Homo sapiens: one gene and its partners. The protein of the gene in region 2 purifies or fractionates together with the protein of the main gene of each other region. This does not show direct contact. Each region holds a gene or a part of one and is shown on either strand. Other genes may lie near its edges.

Region 1 (3,500 bases), on a different chromosome or scaffold from region 2:
ACAATGGTATCTATGTATCTAAGCATAGAAAAGATACAATAAGGATACAGTATTGTAATCTTATGAGACCACTATTATAAGTGCAGTCCGGAAATGTTGTTAGGTGCATGCCTGTATATTAATGCAGGGTTAATATGAAGGAAATTTGGGGAAAAGATGGGAAATGCTTTGAACTATTTTGGATTTTGATAATCAGTACCAACATAGTTCTTTGACTTACATTTGACTTCACTCATTTTTGAAGTACATGTACTGTGACTGTAACAGATAATTCAGATTTCATTAAGATTTGAATTCAGATATTATTTTGTGATTATAGTATGACCCAAAGCCAGTGTGATTTATAACCAATCGTTTTTGTTAAATTGTGTGTACATCTTGAGTATCAAATATATAATATGATCCTTTTTTTTTTCTTTAGTTACCTAGATTCAAGATGAATAGCGATCAAGTTACACTGGTTGGTCAAGTGTTTGAGTCATATGTTTCGGAATACCATAAGAATGATATTCTTCTAATCTTGAAGGAAAGGGATGAAGATGCTCATTACCCAGTTGTGGTTAATGCCATGACTCTGTTTGAGACCAACATGGAAATCGGGGAATATTTCAACATGTTCCCCAGTGAAGTGCTTACAATTTTTGATAGTGCACTGCGAAGGTCAGCCTTGACAATTCTCCAGTCCCTTTCTCAGCCTGAGGCTGTTTCCATGAAACAGAATCTTCATGCCAGGATATCAGGTAAATCACTTAAGGATTTTACTGCCATGCTATCTTCTAGAAAGATTTTGAGAAAATATACTAGATTTAGAACACTAAGAAATAATTGATATTTATACTTAAAATATATATCTGTTGTGTAGTTGATGGTCACTTCTTTTAGAGCAGAATAATAATTGTGTTCTGTGGGCATGAAGTATGAGTCTTGCCCACTGAGGGGAGGGAGAATGTGTGGAGACAGCAGTATACTTGTGTGTCTATATATTTCCACGTCTGTGTTTAAAAATGTAATTCAAAACAGCTTTATGAGCTTTTGTGGTTACTAACAATAAAGGAACTGGTAATACAAAGAATTAGAAAAGTGATAGATCTTGTCCAGGGATCTTCAGAACTATTTTAGGACATTAGTTATTTTTAAAGATCAGTATTAGCATTGTGCAGTCTACCTACCAGTTACTCGATACATTTTTGTTGAATGCATGACAGATAAAGCATCTTAATTGTTAAGAAACTGCAGTGGAGCAATCAGCAGCTTGGGGTGGCAAAGCTGTATCCTTGAATTCCTGCCTCTAGGAGTCCTTGCCCCTCACTTTCTGTTTTAAAAGTGATTTTTTAGTAGGATGGATAGAGTTGACTTAAGAATTTTAGGGAAAAGTGACACTATAGTGTAACAATTTTTATTTAGTTCATTGCATGGAAGTAATTTCTTGGAAGGCATAGTGTGGCGAAAGAGAAGAATTGGATTTAAAGGCTACACGCCTAACCTGGGAGACTTAGTAAGTTATTTTATCTCACTGAGCCTCAGTTTCTTCACTTGCAAACCACTTCTAGAGTCCCTGTCAACCCCCTAATTAAAACAAAATTTAACTATGCCATTATTGTATAAATTAATAAAGGCTGGTACAAATTAATTCTATTTACATGAAAGAAAGATTTGGTAAAATTAAAAGCAGGTCCAGAATATTGAGGGCAGTCTGTGATTAAGTTGGAGAACATACATACCCTTTTGTTTAAAAATAAATATTTAGCAGCCGGGCGCGGTGGCTCACGCCTGTAATCCCAGCACTTTGGGAGGCCAAGGCGGGCAGATCGCAAGGTCAGGAAATCGAGACCATCCTGGCTAACACGGTGAAACCCCGTCTCTACAAAAAATACAAAAAAAATTAGCCGGGCATGGTGGCGGGCGCCTGTAGTCCCAGCTACTCAGAAGGCTGAGGCAGGAGAATGGTGTGAACCCAGGAGGCGGAGCTTGCAGTGAGCCGAGATCGCGCCATTGCACTCCAGCCTGGGCAACAGAGCGAGACTCCGTCTCAAAAAATAAAATAAAATAAAATAAATAAATAAATAAATAAATATTTACCTTATAGTACATTTGAGAAGAGTGGTGATTTATAATCAATAAGAATGCTTCCTGAATTCCAAAAAGGTTTGGAGTCACTATAGTAGAACTTCTTGGAGGCAAGTTAAGATTCCCAAAAAGACCAAATACTTAATTTAAATGAAAAATATTGTCTGCAGTTACACTTGCTAGGATAAATTATGAAGAGTATTAATCATTATGCATCAGGGTACTAGATAATCTCTTGATGGGATCAAGAAAAAGGGTCCCCCCCATCAGCCTTTTTTAAAAATTAGAGATGGAGTCTCACTCTGTTACCCGGGCTGGTATTAAACTCCCAAGCTCAAGTGATCCTCCTCCTCTGGCCTCCCAAAGTGTTGGGATTATAGATGTGAGCCATCGTGTCTGGCCAATGTTTCCTATTAATAAGTTTGCAAAAGGATTATTAAGGGGGACTTTAGTTAATGTTGTCGAAATGCTATTTAGGAAATAGTTTTAGGCTGCCATTATTTTCAGATACCTTTCCATACTGAGTTTAAGTAATACAATCCTGTCTGCCTAAGTGACCCTATCAGTTTCAGGTGAATTTAGCTTATTTTTTCAATTCTCTGAAAAAGTAAGTTACAAATTATGTTACTACTGAACAAAACATCAGTAGGCATTTGCTAGGATCTTGGGAAACCAAAAAGAATATAGTTTTTCCCTCCTTTAAAAAACTCAGGGCTGTATGGCAGACAGCTATATAGTCAAATATTTACCAGATGGTGTATGCATGCCTACAGATACATGTGTATGTATATATTAAGCATTATTGTATGGGAGCTTAATGGAAACTTTTATGTGTGATGCATGCCTCACTCAAGGTATGTTGTTTTTGTTTTTGAGACAGAGTCTTGCTCTGTTGTCCAGGCTGGAGTCCAGTGATGCAATCTTGTCTCACTGCAACCTCTGCCTCCTGGGTTCAAGCAATCCTCCTGCCTCAGCCTCCCAAGTAGCTGGGATTACAGGCATGTGCCACCATGCCCAGCTAATTTTTGTATTTTTGGTAGAGACAGAGTTTTGCCATGTTGCTCAGGCTGGTCTTGAACTCCTGGCCTCAGGTGATCTGCCCACCTTGGCCTCCCAAAGTGCTGGGATTGCAGGCATGAGCCATGGTGCCCGGCCAGAATTAATGTTTAAATAGCGCTTGCTGTATGCCGAGTAATATTTTCAGAAACTTTACATGTATGAATTCTTTTTTTTTTTTTGAGACAGGGTCTCACTCTGTTGCCCAGGCTGGAATGCAGTTGCACAACAATCATAGCTCACTGCAGTCTCTAACTTCTGGGCTCAAGCGATCCTCCCACCTCAGCCTCCTGGGTAGCTGGGACTACAGGCATGTGCCACCACACTCAGCTATTTAAATTTTTTTTTTTTTTTGTAGAGGTGGGGTCTCTGTGTTG
Region 2 (3,500 bases):
TTCCATTTCCAAGGACATTCTAGAGATGAGTAATGATGGGACTACCCATGGTCCTGAAACCCTGAAGATACTGAGCAGCCTGGCCTGGGACTGGATGTTTCAGCAGAAATAACACAGGGGAGACCAGAATCAAGCCTGGAGGTCAGTTCAGTCATCAGGCAGTGGAGGCTCAAGGTGGGGCAGTTTTTTGCAGGTGTTTCATGATGACTTACTTGAACCAGTGACCTCTAAAGATAGAGCAGAGTGCAAGGAATGATCTAGAAAGAGTGAAGGCGACAGGCAAGAGCTGGTGGCTTTGGAGCAGAACTATGTTGCCTGTCCTGCGTTCAAGTTTCCTCTCCTTCTGCAGAGGGCAGGTGAGGACCATGTGGATCTTTCCAGAAATATATGTGGACATTTGCAAATGCAGCACTGACTGGTAGAAAGGGTGGGAAGGATCTGCTGGAAATCTGGTCCTCATGGACCATGTGTGTTTGATGGATATGAGACAAATTTGAAGAGAAGTTTTGGGAATATTTTCTTTCACTGGACATTCTACTCTCTGATTCCCTGGATTCGACTACTCTAGGGACCTCATGTAAGTGGATTCCAGAGTGAATATGAGAAGAGACTGCTGGTTGCCAGGAGCTGGGAGTGGGGAGAATCAGAAGTTGTTCATGGGTGTGCAGTTTCATTTATGCAAGGTGGGGAGGTTCTAGAGATCTGCTGTAGAGCTTGATGCCTATAGTTCACACAAATTGAGTATTTCTTATGCATAAGACTTAGGACAAAAAGTGTTTTGGATTTCTGACATTTTTTGATTCTGAAATATTTGTCATATACTTACTGGTTTAGCATCCCAAATCTGAAAGATTCAAAATCTAAAATGCTCCAGTGAGCATTTCTTTTCAGCATCAGATTAGTAGGCAAAAGTGGGAGGTGATAAGCCAAAGATATTCTTGCCCTTTTTTTTTCTCTCACCACTTTTCTAGCTTGGTGATTAGTTTTCGGTGAATTCCATACTGGCCATGCCTCACTCGTATATTTTTGAAGGCTTTGGGATGTGAAGCCTTTGAAGGCTGATTGCTATTTTCTATGTCATCAGAACTTTCCACCTTTTCATGGTTGCCTCTTTTTCTCAGTGTATCTGTTGTGGCAGTCATTAATAAGAGCCTGTCAGGTGAGATTTAGGACAGTGTTTTCTAATTCTGCAAAAAATGTTACTGGGATTCTGTTAGGTGTTACATTGAATCCGCAACTCACTTTGGGAATATTATCTTTCTAACAATATTGATTCCTCCAATCCATGAAAATGAAATGTGTTTCCATATATTGATATCGTCTTTAACTTGTTTCAGCAATCTTTTGTAGTTTTCAGGGTATAATCATTTGACTTTTTGGTTAAACTTATTCCAAAATATTTTATTCCTTTTGATGTTAATGTGAACTGAAATTCTTTCCTTAATTTCCTTTCGGATTGTTCATTGTTAGTGTATAGTCTAAAGAATGATCTAGAAAGAGTGAAGGGGACAGGCAAAAGCTGGTGGTTTTGGAGCAGAAACATATTCCCTGTCCTGGGTTTTTGATTTTCCCTCTCCCTTTGCAGAGGGCAGGTGGCTCTTCCCTGATAACTAGATAGACTTCACTGGAAAACATAGTGCCAATGCTCCAGGGATCCACTTACCAGGGACTATGATCCTCTTGATTATGAGATTTGTTCCAGCAGTGGCTGAGTTATGGATGAAACAGACATAGACCCCTCTATATGTTTTAGTGATTTGGGGGATAAAGAACACTTGTGCTGATTGCTGGAACTTCCCATCAATCAGCCAAGAATGCTCTGCCAGTGGGTGAGAGTCTGTGAGGCAGGAGAGCTTGGGGACTTCCCCTGTATGGTAATAGGTGTATGAGGAGGAAATGGTGGGGGCATCCAGGCCATGTGGAGCAAAGAGAATAATGTCACAGGCGATATTTTCAGAGGGAAGGGAAAATCTCGTCTGTGGAAGCACCACAATCACAGTGACCCTGTGAGCCAAGTCACAACATTGAAGTCCCAGCCAAATCCCAGCTGTGTTCACTGATCTGGAGCCTGAGACATTCACCTGTTTCTCCCATCACAAGCTGTGGACGCTGAGTCTCCCATGACAGGAGCAGCCTCTTTTCTCCTATTGTTGATCAAGCCTAGGCCTACTCTGGTTTGCCTGGGGCAGAAAGTCATGGCCAGGTTTGATGTCCAGGGGTAAAGGTCTCTGTACTTGGACCTGAGAGGGACTGAGAGGCCTGGTCTCTGGCCACGTGTATTTGGGATGGCAGCCTGGCTCACAGAGGAACAGAAAATACTCACGGAGGAGATTCAGGGTGAATGGGTCACTGCGGCTGGCACTCACTGGGTTCCGTATTTCACATTCATAGGGTCCTGCAGTGTACTTTGTGACACCCAATAGAAAGAGGGTCCTGTTGGTTTCAGACAACTGCAACCTGTGAGACATAGGGAGGCTCTGACCATTCATCCACCACAGGTAGCTTGCGTCCGGAGTCTCAGGATCACAGGTTAAGCTCACAGCCTCCATGGCCTCCCTGGGGTTTAATTTGCTGCTGGAGATGGAGGGCTTGGGAGTCTCCACTGTGCAGAAAACAGAGAGAAGATTGCCCTGTGTGGCACCTTTGATTCCTCCAAAGGCATTTTTCAATCAGAGTTGGCATTTCCCACCTCTCAGCCCACCCAAGTCCTTAAAAGCCCATGGCAGGTGTGTGTGTTGCAAGACAGATGCAGGGCAATCTGAGGGCTCAGAGGTTGTGAGGCTGCCTGCTTCATGTAGAAACACAGACTTTCTCAAGTGTGAATTGAGCAGCAGCATTGGGTCATGGAAAGACACAGGACCAGCAGTCACAGCCCCTGTTGCCTCTCTGAGTCCCTCCGTCTCCAACTGCCTGCCTGGCCCACCTTGTGGTCCTCACTTGGAGCATGCAGTGCTGGAATCTTCTTAGTTTCAGTCTTACTTTGCCGCCCAAGGTATGTTTTCTCTGCAGCTTCCCTTGCCAAGGACATCCTAGAGATGGGTGATGGAACTTCCAATTGTCTTTAAACCCTTTGGGTACTGGAAAGCCTGGCCTGGGACTGGGTACTTCAGCAGAAATAACACAGGGGAGAACAGAGTCAAGTCCGGAGGTCAGTTCAGTCATCAGGCAGTGGAGCCACAAGGTGGCGCAGTTTTCCCAGGTGTCTCATAGTGGCTGACTTGAGCCAGTGACCTCTAAAGATAGAGCAGAGTCCAAGGAATGACCTACAGAGAGTGAAGGGGACAGGCAAGAACTGATAGCTTTGGACCAAGACCACGTTCCCTGTTCTGGATCCATGATGCTCCCTTCCCCCTGTAGAGGGCAGGTGAGGACCATGTGGATCTTTTTGGAAATACATGTGGATGTTTGCAAATGCAGAACCGACTGGTGGAAAGGGCGAACATGAACAGATGATGGAAGTCTGGCCCTCATGGACCATATGTGTTTGGTGGATATTAGAC
Region 3 (3,500 bases), on a different chromosome or scaffold from region 2:
AGGGCCCCCTTCCTCCCCAAGCCATCTCTTACCCCACAAACCCCCAGAGCCTGACCCAGCTGTTTCTCCTCCTTGAAACTCAACTCTCCTCTTGGCTTACAAGAGACCTGGAAGCTCCTGGTTCCTCCCCACTCCCACCAGTCCCTCTCGGACTCCTGTGTATCCAGCTATTTCCTGGGTCTGTCCGCCATCCCCTTCCCCACAGATGCTTCACACATACCCGAGATGAACCAGGTTCCAACTCAGTTCCTGTGAGCCCCACCCCAAAGTGTCCACAGACAGGAGGAACTCAATGTTGACTGAATACATCGATGAATGAATGATTTATCCTCAACAAAGCAAGCCCTTCAGCCTGGTATATCCTGGCACCACTTCCAGCCTCTCCTTGTCCTATATGACCCCCTAGGCGAACCTTCCCAAGCAAGGCCTCCTGCTCTCCTCCCTGCCCCTTGCATATTCCAGGTCATCTCCCACTTCTAGGCCTCAGCTCCTGCCCTCCCATTCGCTAGCTCAGCCCATCGGATGGCACCTATTTCTCCTTAGCCTGGGAGGTGCTGGGAAGGCTGGCTGGCTCCAGTCACACAGCCAGCAAGTCCCTGCTAGTCACACCCCCATTTCTTGCCAGATTCCTGTCCCCAGCCTGTGGCCCTCTGGCTGTGCTGAGCCTGGGGTAGCCCACACCTGTCTGCCAGCCCTCATCCCCTTCTGTGGCAGAACACAGGGCAGGGCACACAGGAGGTTGCCCTAAGCTGATGAGGGTGCAAGCAGGTGGCTGGACCATACTTACTCTGAGTCTGGCGACAGCTCCGAGATGCTGTGAGACGTGGCAGAACGTGGCGTGGAGGGCCCAAGCACAGAGGCTGTGGCAGAAGGTGTGGCAGTGGTGTGAGGGCCCAAGGGTGTGCTTGAAGATTGCACAGAGGAGAGGGCCGAGGAGTTGAAAGAGGCAAGGATGGAGGAAAGAATGTCCAACTGTTCTGTGGAGGGGCCATGGCTGGGGCCACTGACCGAGTCCTCCCTAGCTCTGAGCAGCTGCGGGAGTGGCCCAAGGGCTTCTCGTGAGGGGTGCCGGCTAGGCACCTGGTCCAGCTGCTCCCGAGAGTTCGAGCTCCTAGACAGAGAGTCCAGCGGCCGGGATGGCAAGAGGGGGTCCCTTGAGAGTTGCCGCTGGGGAGACAGGGGCAGAGGTGGGGGCTGTGGGTCAAGGTCCCGGGTGCGGCGGGGCGGAGGCAGCGTGCTCAACCACTCTCGAGGTGCCCCTAAGTCGAGCGCATCCCGTGACCCGAAGCGGCCAGCCATGGCGCCAGGGTAGTCCCGAGGTGGCTGCCTCCGTGGCAGGGTGCTGCCCCGATCTTTGGGCTCCAGTCGGCCTGGTGCAGCATCCATGCATTCCTGGGACCCTGGCCGGCTCAGGGGACGTAGAACAGGGGCAGGGGCTTCCTCTAGTCGCTCACGGCTCAGTTGCCGCCGGAGGAGCAGGTCCAGCTGTTCTCTAGAAGAGTAGCGGCTGGCTGGCTGTGAAAGGCTGCCCGTGCCCCCGCCAGCATAGATGCGACCGTAAGAGGCAGCTGGCACAGCACGGTGGCCCAAGGTGGCTGCACGGCACCAGGACAGCTCAGGGGCACCTCGGGTCTGTGGCACCAGTGGGTATTGCAACCGGTTCTTCAGGATGCCTGTGAGAGGAAGAAAATGGGGGGCAGGGTTTGTGTGGGAGGGGGAGGGCAGGCAGGAATTGCTGAGTCTAGGGGTGTGGCAGCCCTTGGGATCCTTCCAACACAGGGATGGGAGCAGGAACCCCTTGGGGAGCAGCAGAGGCAACCCTGGTGGTCCCAGAGAGGCAGCAGGACAGGGGTCAGAGTGGAAGGGCAGTCATCTTCCAGTTGTGGTCCCGGGGCAGGGGGAGGGCGGGCAGGTCTCATGGTGCAGGGGATGGGGCAAACTCCCTGAGGTCAGAAGAGGGGCAGCCCTCAGGTCCTGACAATGCAGGCCTGGCTGAAATGCAGGAACCCCCCGGGTTGGACAGGAGCAGTCCCCAGGTCCCTGTGATGCAAGGGTGAGGGCAGAAACCTCTTCTCCGGGTCCCCATAAAAGCAGAGTAGGGGGCAGAAATCTTCCAGATCAGAGCACGGGCTCTGGGATCTGGGTGGGGGGCAGGGGGAAGCAGCTCCTAGGGTCTCTGAAAAACAGATGGGCTGGGGCAGGAGTGGTCGCCTGTGGTCCCCCTGTGGTGCTGGCCAGGGTAGAGGGGGACAGAGAATTCCCAGGTCAGGACAGGAGCAGTCCCTGAGGACCGTGAAGCAGGCTAGAGAAGCAGAAGCGCCCTAGGTCAGAGTAAGAAGAGCTCTCAGTTTGGGATGAGGAAGCTGCAATCCCTTGGCTCAGGGCATGAGCAGCCCCCAGCGTGTCTGCGGTGTGGGCCAGGGCTCAGGGACTGTACCTTTCCTCTGGCGCTGGGCCCGGCCCAGAGAAGTCTCATCCCCACTGGTCAGGGCCGGGTCTGGCTGGTTGTTGTTAGCTGCATCCTTGCTGGTGTCCAGCCCCAGGCGCCTTTCAGAGCCCCAAGTCTGCAGAGCACAGGGGGCTGCCTCGCACTCCCCCAGGGCTGGCCAGTAGGACAGGAGGTCATTGCCATCCACATCTGTGGAGCCAGGTCAGGTTACAGGAGCTTCTGGGTTGATCCCAGTGACTCATGACCCCTGACCCTAATGACCCTTGAAACCCTGGCTGTTCTCATTGAGCAGAGGTGGGAACAGGAGGGTATCTCCTCAGAGATCAATGGGTGGGGGTGACTGGTGAGCTCCCTCCCCTTAACTGGAGGTGGACAGAGACTAAAAGTTGGGGAACCTGATGACTGAGGGGTCAGAAAGACCAGGATGAACCCCAACCGCAGGAAAGATGGGGAGCTGGAGGGATAACAAATGGGGCATCCCTTGGTCACCCAAGGGGTCAGAGGGCGCCTGGCACCTTTGGGGTGGGTGAGGAGCCTCTCACTCTGGGCTGCTCGGCAGAGTGGCCGTTGGAAGCGCCCCCGCGTCCGGCCATTGTCCTCGCTTTCTGAAGATGGAATGGAGAGACTCCTCTCCTCCTCCAAGGACAGGTCACTGTCAGAGTCGGAGTCTGCGCCTGGAGTTGGGAAAGTCAGAAGTACTTTCAGAGGTAAGGGACTTGGAGATAAGGGAATTTGGAGTTGAGGGTCTAGAGGTGGGTACGGCAAGGGGGTTAGGGTTGGGGACAGGAACCGGGGCTTGAAGTGGAGGTAGCAGCAGAAGGGCTGGGACTTATCAGAGGGAAGGACGAATCAGGAGTGGACTGGGAGAACCAGGGCTGGAGAGGTAGGTGCCTCCTGAGGCAGGGACCCTGGGGGAGATCGTCCCACCCCAGTCAGCCACTGCTCCCAGTATGGGGTAGAAGAAAAGGGGATGGGGAGAGATCCTCTGCCTCCCTCCTCCCTGCCCCAGGCCCCAACTCCACCAGCATCTCGATGGAACATGGCCACGTCC
Region 4 (3,500 bases), on a different chromosome or scaffold from region 2:
GGAGATCTCCATTTGAGGGCAAGGAAGTGGGTGCAGACAGGTTGCTGGGTTATGCATGGACCTGTGTAACACTGGCAGGGTAATGGTGCTTGAGTGGTGCCGGCATAGGGGTGTGTGTGTATGTGTGCATGTGCATGTGCATGTGAGCACACATGTATCAGTATCTGCCAAATCTCTGCATATGGGCAGCATGCCTCAAGCAGGTCCCTGGCCCACAGAGTGAAATGATCCCCATCCCTTCCTCCCCCAGACCTGTGCACACCGATATGAGGCAAGGCAGCGAGTGGACCAGATCCTGGAGACGCGGGATATGATTGGTCGCTGCTTTGTGCTCAGCCAGGACCTGGCCATCCGGGATGAGTTGGATGGTGGGGAATGGAAGTTCTGTGAGGGACGCCCCCAAGGCCATGAACAATTTGGGTTCTGCCAGCAGGGCACAGCTGCCGCCTTCTCCCCTGATAGCCACTACCTCCTCTTTGGGGCCCCAGGAACCTATAATTGGAAGGGTGAGTCACTCCTCGGGAAGGGGAGAAGGGGACCAAAACCTCCTCTTACCTCAGAGACAGGGTTGGGGATGGCACATGGCCAAGCATGACCACATGTGCACTGCTGTATGGCCCCAGGGCACTGCCATGCCTTCCACCCCATTGAGCTAGTGCACACATGAATGGGGGGTGCCTCCTTTCCCTCGCACGGCCAAGTGTTCCTCAACATGCTGGCATGGGCCCCAAGTGCACGCTGGGCCTGCAGCTGGGGCCTGCATGCTCCAACACACTAGCCCACACCTCATCACTGCCATTCCCGTCTCCGCACGCTGCTGCTGGCTGAGCTGACACTCGGTGAGTGTGATGCCACATCTGGGGGACCCCAGGAAGCCTGGGTTGGGGACAGGGTGGGGAGAGGGCTAGAAAGAAGAGGCAGGGCTTCCCCGTGTGCCTGTCTAACTCAGTGTCCGGCCTGAGGGGTGTTCCTTGCGCCCTGCCCTGGGCACTAACAGGTCTGTCCTTGCAGGCACGGCCAGGGTGGAGCTCTGTGCACAGGGCTCAGCGGACCTGGCACACCTGGACGACGGTCCCTACGAGGCGGGGGGAGAGAAGGAGCAGGACCCCCGCCTCATCCCGGTCCCTGCCAACAGCTACTTTGGTAGGGACCTCTCCCCGGCCCAGAACTGCTCTAACCCTCTGCTCCTCTCTCTTGTCCTCTCTCTCCATGCTCCCATCCTTCTGTCTCTGTTTCTGTCTCTCACCTTGTCTCTCTCTGTCTTTCTGTCTCTGGCTGTGATCTCTCTGGTCTCTTTTTCTCTCTCCACCTCTTCTTCTTCCACCATTTTCTGGCCTTTCTGTGGCTCTGTCTCCCTACTCTGTGGCCCCTACTCTGGATGTCCCCTCCCTGGTGTCTCACCCCACCCCCCACAGGGTTGCTTTTTGTGACCAACATTGATAGCTCAGACCCCGACCAGCTGGTGTATAAAACTTTGGACCCTGCTGACCGGCTCCCAGGACCAGCCGGAGACTTGGCCCTCAATAGCTACTTAGGTTTGTAAGCTCCCACCTCCTGGACTCTAGGGGCATGGCCCAGCCTCCCCTCCTTCCCCAGGGAACTCGACCTTTGGTGCCTTATAATCTCCTCCTCCCCCAACACACACCCAGGGAGACATACATTGGGCCCAAATTGCAGAGAAGAGCTGGGTCCAATGATCAGGCCTAAGAGGAGGAGGCCCCCAGGGTGGTGGCCTCTGGGGCTGTGAGCCAGGGGTCTCCATGGAGGAAGATTCAGGTGGAATGAGAGGGCCAGGGCTGAGGATATTTTGGGAAGGACAGTCCTGTCTTCTAGGGGGACTTTCCCTGAGGGGATGGATGGTGGGCACATATTGAAGAAAGGGCTAATGTTGTTGGTAAGTCCCTCTCGTTGTCTCATCTGCATTCCTCTGCAGAGGAGGAGGAAACCAGGCCTGGGAGATGTTTGGGTGAAGCAGGCGCTCTCTCACTCCCCCTTGTCTCCCCCTCATCCATGTGAAGACTTCCCCTCCCTGCCAGGATGAGGGAGTTGGGGGAAAGAGGTGCACTGGGTGGGATTCGGGCCTGAGAGGGACCTCTAGCTCTTCTAGCTCCCTGGGTGTGGGCAGGGTGAGGCCACTGTGCTCAGCCTCCTACCTGGGCTCCTGGCCTTCTCAGCCATCACCTTTCTCTCTCTTGCCCAGTCCCTGAGGCTGACCTCACTGCACTTTTTGTGCCAAGCTTGTCTCTGGGCCTGGTGGGTGTGGGAGGCTGCCAGGCCCTGTGGGGAGGAAGAGCTATCCAGCTGTGGTGCTGATGACTTGGGGGGACCTATCTTTTGGCTCTTAACCTAGGGGAGGGGGCAGGGTGCAGGGGAGCTGTGACTTGGCTCTTAACCTGTAGGGAGGGGGCAGGGGCTGGGGGAGCTGTGACACACCCCAGCTTCTGAGTCTTGGGGTGAAGACTTAGGGGTAAGTCACCCTTCCCCCAGGCTTCTCTATTGACTCGGGGAAAGGTCTGGTGCGTGCAGAAGAGCTGAGCTTTGTGGCTGGAGCCCCCCGCGCCAACCACAAGGGTGCTGTGGTCATCCTGCGCAAGGACAGCGCCAGTCGCCTGGTGCCCGAGGTTATGCTGTCTGGGGAGCGCCTGACCTCCGGCTTTGGCTACTCACTGGCTGTGGCTGACCTCAACAGTGATGGGTGAGTGGGTAGAGGGCCGTGCCACCTGAGGGAGGCTGGGTCTAGTAGCCCCAGTCTGGCTGAGGCCACTTAGCCTCCTGCTGGCTCCTCTGGCCAGGGAGGACCCACACTGAATGTTTCCCTCTCTCCATAGCTGGCCAGACCTGATAGTGGGTGCCCCCTACTTCTTTGAGCGCCAAGAAGAGCTGGGGGGTGCTGTGTATGTGTACTTGAACCAGGGGGGTCACTGGGCTGGGATCTCCCCTCTCCGGCTCTGCGGCTCCCCTGACTCCATGTTCGGGATCAGCCTGGCTGTCCTGGGGGACCTCAACCAAGATGGCTTTCCAGGTGTGACGGGGAACTGGAAAGGCTCAGGGAGGGAGGGGCCACAGGAGGGATGGGGAAGCCCCTCAGAGGTCAGGGTGTGGTCTTCTGAGGACTCAGGGAGAGAGGGTCCCTGAGCTTATGTCTGAGCTGTACCATTTACCAGCTTTCTGACCTTGGCAAGTTCCTAACCTTTTTGCGTTAGTAATATCTGCAGGGAGTGGCCAAGAGGATTAAAGATGATGTATGTAGAGTGCCTGGGATTTTGTAGCCTCTCAATAAAATAGAAAACATACCTGAGTGACTGGGGGGAGTTGAGGCCTGGATCTTGTCTGCAAGGCCCCCAGCCAGCGTGACTGCCTTTTCCCTGTGCCCTGCAGATATTGCAGTGGGTGCCCCCTTTGATGGTGATGGGAAAGTCTTCATCTACCATGGGAGCAGCCTGGGGGTTGTCGCCAAACCTTCACAGGTGAGGGGAGTCGCTGGGATGAGGGAATGGGTG
Region 5 (3,500 bases), on a different chromosome or scaffold from region 2:
CCAAGGAACCTGGAAAAAAGGGCTTCTCCAAAGATATCATCAACCCAGGCCTCAGATGCCACACATGGCCAGGTCTGGTGGCTCACGCCTGTAATCCCAGCACTTTGGGAAGCTGAGGTGGGCAGATCACGAAGTCTGGAGTTCGAGACCAGCCTGGCCAATATGGTGACCCCGTTTCTACTAAAAATACAAAAACTAGCTGGGAATGGTGGCGAGTGCCTATAATCCCAGCTACTCAGGAGGATGAGGCAGGAGAATTGCTTGAATCCCAGAGGCGAAGTTGCAGTGAGCTGAGATCGTGCCATTACACTCCAACCCAGGCAACAGAGTGAGACGCCATCTCAAAAAAAAAAAAAAAAAAAAAAAAAAGAAACCCCCACACATAAAAGAATATTAACTCATAATAAAATTAAATCAGAAAACCATGAGAAAAAGCACAATGAGCAAAAAGGCAATAGAAACAATAGGTAGTCATACCAGCAAAGGCTTCAGTTATTGGAATTATGAGATGTAGAATATAAAATACTATCTTTGAAGAAATAAGAGAGGCGATAGAAAGTACAGTTGACCCTTGAACAACATGGGTTTAAAGTATGTATGCAGGTACACTTACACATGGATTATTGTCCTGCCTTTGCCATCCCTCAGACAGCAAGCCAAACCCCTCCTTTTCTTACTCCTCAGGCTATTCAGTGCAAAGATGACGAGGATAAAGACCTTTATGATGTTCTACTTTTACTTAATAAATAGTAAATATATTTTCTCTTACGATTTTCTTGGTAACTTTTTTTTCTAGTTTATTGTAAAAATACAATATAAAATACATGTAACGTGTTAATTGACTGTTTATTTGTTGGTAAGTCTTCCTGTTAACAGTATTCTATAGTAGTTAAGTTTCAGGGGAGTCAAAATTTAGGCATGTATTTTTTACTGCATGGGGGTTTAGCACGCCTAGCCCCCACATTATTCAAGGGCCACTTGTGTTAGTAAGGAACAAGAAACGATCAAAAATAGGTGCGATGGGCATGATCTCACATATGTGGAACTTTTAAAAGTCTAACTTGTAGAAGAGTAGAATGATGGCTACCAGAGGCTGAGGATTGGAAAGCTGGGGAAAGGAGAGATGTTGATGAAGTGGGGTACGGAGTTTCAGCTGGACAGGAGAAATAGGTTCTCATGATCTGTTACACAGCACAGTGACTATAGTTAATAATTTATATTTTAAATCTCAGTACAAAGAAATAAGTTTTTTGACATGATAGATGTTAATTTGCCTGATTTTTATCATTCCACGATGTATACATGTATTGAAACATCACATACCCCATAAATATATACAATTATTTGTTAATTAAAAATGAAATAAAACATAAGAAAGGATAATGGAATATCATGCTATGTGTGAGAGAGGAAATGGTCAAAAAATGATGGTGAGGGGGTATATAAGGACACAGGAACCAGCTTGAAGAGACTCTGCTGGCCAAATCTGGATTAATTTGAATACCAAGTATAGACCATTGGGAAAAAATAGTTTCTAAGTTCATACTTATAATAATACATAGGTAAATAGGGAAGAAGAGGGAGGGGTCTTCCTCATAGTGGAATGCCAAGTGCTGACTGTTAGAAGTTGGGGAGTAGGGCTGGAGTCGGAAAATAGTGCAGACGACTCTCCCAAACACATAGAACAAAAAAGTTGCCGTATACATATGGCATAACAAATTTAAAATGAAGCAGAAGTAAACTATTGCTTAGAAATACATGCATATGTGATATAACACTAAAGAAAATAATGAGGATAACATATGATAGTGGTTGCTTCAGAAGGCATCTAAATATTGGTAATACTCTCTTTAGTAGTTTTAGGTTTCATGAATGCTCATTTTTAGCTTGTACATAAATATGTATATACTCATATATAAACGTATATTTATATATAAACATGTATATATTGAGACAATGTCTTGCTCTGTTGAGCAGGCTGGCATACAATGGCAAGATCTTAGCTGACTGTAGCCTTGAACTCCTGGGCTCCAGCAATCCTCCCGCCTCAGTCTCCCAAGTAGCTAGGACTACAGGTGTGCACTACCATACTCAGCTAATTTTTATTATTTTTTACAGAGACGGAGTCTTGCTATATTGCCCAGGCTAGTCTCAAATTCCTGGCCTCAAGTAATCCTCCCACTTTGGCTTCCCAAAGTGCTGGGTGGGATTACAGGTGTAAGCCACCACATCCAGCCTGTATAATTTTAAATAGAAAATGTTTCACAGTATAAAACGTAAGCATACAAAGGAATTATGAAGAATTATAGACTATAATTCTTAGTTTTGAATTTGGGCCATGAATCACTGCATTACATGGTCCCTCACATAAATATGGCATAGTTTTGTTTTAGTAAAATATTGGAGATTGGTAACAGACATAGTAAAATATTGGAGATTGTTGGTTTTTAGCAAATAAGAGATGCTGTTTTCAATCTTACCAAAAACACTTTACTGGTTTTTTGGGAAAGAAATTGTAAACAGTAAGTGCATAAAATATTGCTGGAAAAATACACAATATAAAACATTTTGTGGGTTGTCAGGATTTAAAGTCGTTTAATTTTCATTAGCTTACCTTTTATATTTGTAAAGGTTTTATCATTTAATTTTTTTAATATAAAAGTTTGTAACTAAGAGGATTTCAATCACCTACAAGACATTTTGAAAAGTTTAAAAGTATAATCTTCGTAACATGTGCCTCAACATATCTTAATGTTAAAACAATAGGTGATACAGAGCAGGTTTTTAACATTGATCAACACAGAAGCAGATGCTTTGTTGGTAGAGCTCTTTACTCTGATTTTTATACTGTATTTAGTGCCATTGTTAATATTCTCTCCCACTTTATCTTGTATGAGACCCTGAGCTTGTTGATGATAATTTTGCTGTTTATAGTACCTTGATACCTTTCCAGAATTAATCTCTGAGGTGCCATATTCAATTTGTTTACAGATACCTTAGATAGAACTTTAGGAGACAAAAGGCATCTTGTGACTGTAGAAGTGGAAGCAAGGCCAATTGAAACATCATCTGTTATGCCTGTGATTGAGTTTGAGTATGCTGAAAGTATCAATGAAGGCCTTTTGAAGGTCTCCCAAGAGGCCATTGAAAATGGAATTCACAGCGCATGTCTCCAAGGTAAGACACTCAAATGAGAGTAAGCATTAGTATCCCACTCAACCATTTAATCACTCCTTATATTACAGATTATTTCAGTCTTTTTCCTAACTTTGTTAGTGTTTTCTCCCTATTCCTTTGCACTTCTCAGTTACTTCTCACTTCACATCTAGCAGAGTATGATACAATTTTTTTCCCTTGTCTAGGACCATTGCTTGGATCCCCAATTCAGGATGTAGCAATTACTTTACATTCCCTGACAATTCATCCTGGCACCTCCACAACTATGATTTCTGCCTGTGTCTCAAGATGCGTGCAAAAGGTATAGAACTATCCTAATCCTT
Region 6 (3,500 bases), on a different chromosome or scaffold from region 2:
GGGCACTGTTGAATCAGAACTTCTTGGCTACCTTAAGCCATGATATCAAGGAACTAAAGCTCTACCCCTGCTGGTTTCACCCTTTACTGGAGCTACATTTGGGCCTAGATTGATTCCACTGTGTTTTCATGAATTACCTATACACAGATCTTAAAGCCCCTCTCCACTTGTGAATTTCCATTTATCCATCAAGACGTGCCCCATTACATCCCTTACGAAATAAGCCTCCCCTGATAAGTCCTTCAATGAGTCATATGCTGCCTTCAACAGCAGCTCACACCTACTTCTAACTCAGCATTTACCATATTTTATTTACTAAAAAGAATGTTACATAACTCACATACCTGCTAGATTTTGGAGACTCCTAATGAGCAAAACATCTTGTACATCTATGTTCATCACAGTAAAATAGGCACTCAAACATTGGTTAAAATAATTTAACCAATTAAATTTTTCTTTACAACCTGAATCACTGCTAGGTAGGTACAGAGAACTACTAAGTAAATACTCATCATCAGCTCAGACTCCACTGCCTCCACACATTTCCAGTGTGATGCAGCAGGTGACACCTTATGACTACTCACCTTCTAAAACTGCAGGAGCCTCCACCGGCTCAAGAGAATCCAGCCTGAATCAACATCAAAGATAGAAGGTAAGAAAACCATGCTGATGGCATTGTTGCTGTCAGCTGTCTTCTGTTGCACAACCAAGTAGCAAGCATTAGGTCTCTATGACAGAGCTAAAGATAGGACACACATGGTGGTGAAGTTAAAAATGGGATCATAAAGAAGGAAATAGGCTGAGTGTGGTGGCTCACGCCTGTAATCCCAGCACTTTGGGAGGCCAAGGCGGGCAGGTCACTTGAGGCCAGGAGTTCAAGACCAGCCTGGCCAACATGGTGAAACCCCGTCTCTACTAAACATATAAAATTTAGCCAGGTGTGATGGCAGGCACCTGCAGTCTCAGCTACTCAGGAGGCTGAGGCAGGAGAATCGCTCCCAGGAGGTGGAGGTTGTAGTGAGCCAAGATTGTGCCACTGCACTTTAAGCTGGGTGACAGAGTGAGAACCTGTCTCAAAAAAAAAAAAAAGAAAAAGAAAAGAAAGGCAACTCAATACTATGTTTAAAATATTAGGACATGGGAAAGGAACTAACAGATCAGGAGACTGTGTGGGTTTTTTTTTTTAATTTAAAAAAAGAGTAATTACACCAGGCACGGTGGCTCATGCCTGTAATCCCAGCACTTTGGGAGGCCGAGGCAGGAGGACCGCTTGAGGCCACGAGTTCGAGACCAGCCTGGAAAATATGGCGAGACCCCCGTCTCTATAAAAAATTTTAAAAATTAGCCAGGTGTGGTGACCTATAACAGTAGTCCCAGCTACCCAGGAGGCTGGGGTGGGAGGATGGCTTGAGCCCACAAGGTCAAGGTCAAGACAGCAGTGAGCAGTGATCACGCCACTGCATTCCAGCCTGGGTAGCAGAGAAAGACCTTGTCTCAAAAACAAAACAAAACAAACTATAAACATAAGTACAAAAGGGGTGCTTGGATGGAAATTCAGCTTCGTGCTCAGAAGAGAAAGACTGAGGCAGGGCCCTGAGGGCTGGCTAAAATGTCAATAGGCAAAAAGCAGAGGTGAAACAGTAACCAGAAAACTTCCTCAAACACATAAATGGGAATATACAGCACCCTAGGGATCGGGGGTAGTGAACACTGCAAGATAACACCAAGGTTTTGTGCCTGAGGACTGTCAGTGATGGCAGCATTAACAAAAGTGAAAGACTGGAGGAAGGAAAATAATGTAATTTTATATATACTGAGTTTGAGGTGACAGCAAGACAGGGTTTGGGCATTAACCTCAAGCTCTGAAAAAAGTTCACAGCCAGAGAGATGTTTGAGAAACAGCTGAAAAGGGAAGAATGAATTCCATTATCCCAACTTCAATCAATTCACTCATCTATTCAACAAATATTTATTGAGCACCTACTATGTACTAGGCACGGGGGGAAAGGAGGTTACAATTTTAGATAAGACCAGCCCCCATGGATCTTATATTTTAGCAGCAGCAAACATGCTATAAATAAATGTATAATTTCAAGTTGCAATTTTTTTAAAAACTACAAAGAAAAAGCAGAGTAAGGAGAACAGAAAATAATGACAAGGGCAGGGGGTCACTTCTCAACAAAATGGCCAGGAAAGACCTCTCTGTGCAGAGACTTGAGTGCAGTTAAAGACTGAACTCTGCAGACCCGAGATGAAAGGCTCAGGTTACAGAGAACAGGGAAAGACCTTAACAGGGAACAAGCTTGCCAGATTCAGGGAAGAGCAAGGTTGAATAGCTGGGAGGGATAAGATCCTAAAGGGCTATGGCTAAGAATTTGTCTATGATTTCTCTTAAGAGGTTACAACCATCAACCATAAGTTACCACTTAGATTATAACATCCTTCTAACTGCTCTCCCCATCCATTTTTGTTTACCTCCAATCCATTATCCACACTGCATAAAAAGTAATCTTTAGAAAATACAAATTAAATGTCACTCCCCTGTGCAAAGCCTTTCAGTGGTTTCACACTATATGTAGCTCCAACTTAGCATCTTCGCTCAACATTATGTGAGATTCATCCATGCTGATTCTTACTACCCAAAGGTCAAAATCATGCAAAACTATGCATGACTTAGGGATGCATACATATGTAGTAAAAATAGAAAGAAAAGCAAAAAATATATAAATAGAAAATTCAGGCTAGTGGTTACTCCTGGGAAGAAGCGAGGAAGAAAAAAAAGCAGAGAGAAGAACGATAAGACTAGAAAGGGTAAGCAGGGGACGCTAATGGTATAGGTAATGTTTCATTTCTTAAGCTAGATGGTGAATATGTGTGTTCAATATACCATTTTTACATCTTACATGTATTTTATAATGTATAAAATATTTCATTGATTTTTAAAATCTGCAATGTCTTTCCACTGATCTTGGCACAATGGCCAAAACGCTGACAGCTCTAAGCACACAGGCTCTATCCTCTCTGGTCAAGCATGCTCTTTCATTTGCCTCTAACACTACTACCCTGGCCTCTCCACTTGAATAATTCATTCCAACTTCCCCTTTAGACCAAAGGATGCCCTCCCTGCCCCTTCCCCAGACAAATCCTCCCTTCCCATAACACTGCATACATTCACAGCGCTTACCACATTAGACATTAGACAACCAGAATCCTGCCTCCCCAGACAGTGCAAGGACCCCAGGAGGGTAAGGGCATGCCTAAGGTGTTTTGTCTTCCCAGCTAGCCTGGTACAGTATCTTGCACACAGTAGAGTTAATAAAAGTTTCTGGAATGAATGAAGGAAAAGAGAAACAAATCTGAATGAAAAGCACATCTTCTATTAGTCTCCTCTTCCATCTCTTCCTTATTCCCAACCTCCCCGTCCACACCCACTCAAATAGTGGGCATGGCAAATGGTCAAATTAAATATAAAAAGGAAGAGAGATATGCAGTGCCTGACT
Region 7 (3,500 bases), on a different chromosome or scaffold from region 2:
TTTATTTAATAAACATTTCCATAGCATTTAGCATGTGCCAGATAGTTTTCGAAACACTTTACCAATAACTAACTCATTTAACTCATGACAGCTCTATGATGAAGGTTTATTATTATTTCCATTTTACAGATGGGAAAGCTTAGGTGCAGAAAGGTTAAGTAACTTGTTCCAGGTCTTACAGCTGGGAAGCTGCAGATTTGCGATTCAAATCCAGGTGGTTAAGCTTTAAATGTTCACCATGCTATGTTGTCTATCATATTACTTTATTTAGTTTCAGGTATCACTAAACTGGATCCTATCAAGCCCTTCCATAATTTTTGTAAGTTAAAAAGTTTTATTGGAACACAGCCTCATCCATTCTTTTATAATAGACCATGGCTACTTTTTTGGACAGAGGCATTGTTGTGTAGTTGCCACAGAGATCTTATGTCTGGCAAAGCCAAAAATATTTACTGCTTCTCCTTTACAGGAAAAGTTTGCTGGCCCCTAGTTGGTTTGATTCACAGGCCCAGTCATCAGCTGAAGTTGTTTATTTGATTGCTTGTTTATGACAGTTGTAGTAGGTTTAAAGGCACCATGAGAGCAAGGCTCTTTCTTGTTTTGTTCACCTCTGTATACCCATTTGCTAACGTGGTGCCTGGCACCAAGCAAGTGCTCAAAAAAAATTGAATAAAGGATCATTATTCAGTGGGATAGCAAAGTGCTTTGTAATTATACTTAGCCCTTGACCCTTTGTTTTTTTTTTTTTTTTGTTGTTGTTGTTGTTGTTGTTTTGGCTTTTAAAGGAAATTTGTTAACAAAGTTGTCTTCATTTTGATCTCTAGGTTTGCAGGTTGCTATGTTAATGTTGTTTGTCTTTGGAGTCTTACTTCATGAAGTCTCACTGAGTGGTCAGAATGAAGCTCCTCCTAATACTCACAGCATTCCAGGCGAACCTCTGTATAACTATGCCAGCATCCGCTTGCCAGAGGAGCACATTCCCTTCTTTTTGCACAACAATAGGCATATTGCCACTGTCTGTAGGAAAGACTCTCTTTGTCCATATAAGGTAGGTATTATTTCTTTTCTCCTTATTTTTATGAGGATGCAATTTCAGCTGGCTTACAGGTTCTGCTTTATAACCTGAAACTGAAGGCAGAATTCTAATTTTCGGTTGTCACTGTATAAGTTAATCATTGTTTCATATAATACTTCTAAGTGACTAAACTGCTTAAAATTATGTCCCATTCATAAGAGAGAAATTTAAAATCTAAATCACTTCTAAAACAAATAAGTAGCCAATACTATTTGTAAACTCTGTAAAGAAGCAATTAGATTTTATGCAGGAAAGAACATCTTGTTAAAAGTAACTAAAGAATTTCACACCTCTTCTTTCTTAAACGGCACATGAGAGGATCGGTTAGCACTTAATTTCAGTAATAACACCTCAGCCTCTGTCTCCACATAATTAAGCCTGTTACTGTGGCTTTCTTTCTGTTTTAGAGGAGTTGGAAAGGCCTCAAATAGGAGCCCATTAAGACATCTCACAGGGCCCCAGAGATCAAAGCTGGGCATTGTGAGACACTTCCTTTCCCATGGTGCTGGCACAGGAAGCATATGGAAAAGCAGACTTGGGAATCAGACCAGCATTGCTCCTGGGGCCTTGCAGAAGAGCATTCTCAACTCCTTGGCCAGCAGCAGCTGGGTGGTTCCCAAGGGTGGCAGAGTTGTCCATGTGTTGTGGGGTCTCTGCTGATCTTGATTGCTAAGTGAAGTTGCTGATTGATTCAGTTTAGCTGTGATTCCTTTGGTAGCACAAATTCCAGTTTATATGTCTTTTAGGGACTGATTTTAGAATCCGCTTGCTCACTGAGAAAGGTGGTTTCTTAAGCTACTTCAAGAAATTCAAATTCAAGTGGTCTTTGAGCGTCTAGGTAAAGCCCAGACTTTCGGTTAGGGGACCGATATGGTGGGGGTGATGAGTAAGGAGGATTGTTAAGAACCTTGAGACTGCTCTTTTTAGAATTAACTGTAAGTTTTAAATTTATTGTTATAAGAATACGTATTATAAATGTAAATGTGAATGCTCTATAATGATTTGTTTTCTTAATGGAAAAATCTAAGAGTCTTCTCTAAATGTCAGAAGAAGGGAAATCAATGTAAGTTTTATGTTCTAGAAACACCTAGAGAAGCTAAAGTACTGCTGGGGTTATGAGAAATCCTGCAAACCAGAGTTCAGGTTTGGTTACCCAGTTTGCAGCTATGTCGACATGGGATGGTAAGTTTCCATATGGAATACCCTCTTCAAGTCTTCCTCTTTCTATACAGTGTATGTTGATGCCCTAATTTCCAGCTAGATTCTTTTGGTTTTAGATAGTAATTCATTTAGATATTAATTTGCTTGCACAGTCATGAATTCAACTTGACTATTTCATACTGGGATAGGAATATCTGTCATTTCCTCTGCCAGAGGGAGAAACAGCCAGGACCATAGATAATTTTTTCCCCCAGTGTATAGTAAGAAGATAAATGGATGGTTTCTTCTTGATTCTTCCTGGGAGAATTAAGTATAATTAGTACTTCCAATACATGCAATGTTAATGAGGTAAAGAAAATATAGTAATTAAGAATGCATCATTGGCTTCAGTTTCAGGTGATAACTTCATACATGTCTGTTATGTATTTTATGATAAAGGAATAATTCTGTGAATAACTTAGTTTCGTAACTTCATGTAGTGAGGCGTAGTTTTGGAAAAACTATGATAATATACTGTAACAAAATTAAAGTAATAAGGAACCTCTAGCATTTTAACCTTTAGAATGAAAATTCAAGGTCCAAAAAAGTAAAAAGAAAAAAACACAGAATATTTTTATTTGCAAATAGGACGGACACTCTTGAGTCAGCTGAGGACATATTTTGGAAACAAGCTGACTTTGGATATGCCAGAGAGAGGCTGGAGGAGATGCATGTGCTCTGTCAGCCTAAGGAAACGGTGGGTATTTTGCTCCTTACTAAATAAACTTGTTTATTTAATTTTAATTTTATTTATTTTTGAGACGGAGTTTCTGTCTATTGCCCTGGCTGGAGTGCAGTGGCGCGATCCCAGCTCACTGCAACCTCTGCCTCCCAGGTTCAAGGAATTCTCCTGCTTCAGCCTCCTGAGTAGCTTGGATTACAGGCGCGTGCCACCCCCCCCCGCTAATTTTTATATTTTTAGTAAAGGTGGGGTTTCGCCATGTTGCCAGGCTGATCGCGAACTCCTGACCTCAAGGGATCCACCCACCTCAGCCTCCCAAAGTGCTGGGATTACAGGCGTGAGCCACTGTGCCCAACTAAGCTATTTTATTTTTATTACTTATTATTGATTTTTAATATTTATCATTTAGCTTGTAATGTAAAAACAAGATAGACGGCACTATGAAAGGAATTCCTCACTCTCACTTAGTTATTGGCATAGAATTTTATGTAACTTCCCCAAATAGGTTGTTTTCTTTCCTTTGGAAACCCTGTCCTCCTTATC

What was found.
Region 1: the proteins of PSG8 (region 2) and MCM9 purify together in Homo sapiens (affinity purification with mass spectrometry; 2 studies listed by BioGRID and IntAct, with this or other methods). This does not show direct contact.
Region 3: the proteins of PSG8 (region 2) and CELSR3 purify together in Homo sapiens (affinity purification with mass spectrometry; 2 studies listed by BioGRID and IntAct, with this or other methods). This does not show direct contact.
Region 4: the proteins of PSG8 (region 2) and ITGA7 purify together in Homo sapiens (affinity purification with mass spectrometry; 2 studies listed by BioGRID and IntAct, with this or other methods). This does not show direct contact.
Region 5: the proteins of PSG8 (region 2) and GFM2 purify together in Homo sapiens (affinity purification with mass spectrometry; 2 studies listed by BioGRID and IntAct, with this or other methods). This does not show direct contact.
Region 6: the proteins of PSG8 (region 2) and PEX7 purify together in Homo sapiens (affinity purification with mass spectrometry; 2 studies listed by BioGRID and IntAct, with this or other methods). This does not show direct contact.
Region 7: the proteins of PSG8 (region 2) and EOGT purify together in Homo sapiens (affinity purification with mass spectrometry; 2 studies listed by BioGRID and IntAct, with this or other methods). This does not show direct contact.

What each region holds. Positions count from the first base shown.
Region 1 is NC_000006.12:118,928,660-118,932,159, reverse strand, and holds part of MCM9 (DNA helicase MCM9), read left to right. Parts: intron 1-421; 5' UTR 422-436; coding exon 437-740; intron 741-3,481; coding exon of another isoform or gene 3,482-3,500. UniProt on the Homo sapiens protein: Component of the MCM8-MCM9 complex, a complex involved in the repair of double-stranded DNA breaks (DBSs) and DNA interstrand cross-links (ICLs) by homologous recombination (HR).
Region 2 is NC_000019.10:42,755,679-42,759,178, forward strand, and holds part of PSG8 (pregnancy-specific beta-1-glycoprotein 8 isoform a precursor), read right to left. Parts: intron 3,264-3,500; exon of another isoform or gene 3,029-3,263; coding exon of another isoform or gene 2,938-3,028; exon of another isoform or gene 2,924-2,937; intron 2,603-2,923; coding exon 2,324-2,602; intron 1-2,323.
Region 3 is NC_000003.12:48,638,887-48,642,386, forward strand, and holds part of CELSR3 (cadherin EGF LAG seven-pass G-type receptor 3 precursor), read right to left. Parts: coding exon 3,472-3,500; intron 3,124-3,471; coding exon 2,965-3,123; intron 2,639-2,964; coding exon 2,438-2,638; intron 1,674-2,437; coding exon 788-1,673; intron 1-787. UniProt on the Homo sapiens protein: Receptor that may have an important role in cell/cell signaling during nervous system formation.
Region 4 is NC_000012.12:55,697,905-55,701,404, reverse strand, and holds part of ITGA7 (integrin alpha-7 isoform 2 precursor), read left to right. Parts: coding exon of another isoform or gene 1-26; exon of another isoform or gene 27-55; coding exon of another isoform or gene 56-79; intron 80-250; coding exon 251-506; intron 507-518; exon of another isoform or gene 519-839; intron 840-1,011; coding exon of another isoform or gene 1,012-1,143; exon of another isoform or gene 1,144-1,378; coding exon of another isoform or gene 1,379-1,415; coding exon 1,416-1,535; intron 1,536-2,487; coding exon 2,488-2,695; intron 2,696-2,828; coding exon 2,829-3,022; intron 3,023-3,378; coding exon 3,379-3,467; intron 3,468-3,500. UniProt on the Homo sapiens protein: Integrin alpha-7/beta-1 is the primary laminin receptor on skeletal myoblasts and adult myofibers.
Region 5 is NC_000005.10:74,725,618-74,729,117, reverse strand, and holds part of GFM2 (ribosome-releasing factor 2, mitochondrial), read left to right. Parts: intron 1-2,991; coding exon 2,992-3,177; intron 3,178-3,362; coding exon 3,363-3,478; intron 3,479-3,500.
Region 6 is NC_000006.12:136,839,592-136,843,091, reverse strand, and holds part of PEX7 (peroxisomal biogenesis factor 7), read right to left. Parts: intron 1-3,500. UniProt on the Homo sapiens protein: Receptor required for the peroxisomal import of proteins containing a C-terminal PTS2-type peroxisomal targeting signal. Specifically binds to cargo proteins containing a PTS2 peroxisomal targeting signal in the cytosol.
Region 7 is NC_000003.12:69,007,185-69,010,684, reverse strand, and holds part of EOGT (EGF domain-specific O-linked N-acetylglucosamine transferase isoform a precursor), read left to right. Parts: intron 1-824; 5' UTR 825-838; coding exon 839-1,048; intron 1,049-2,156; coding exon 2,157-2,257; intron 2,258-2,863; coding exon 2,864-2,972; intron 2,973-3,500.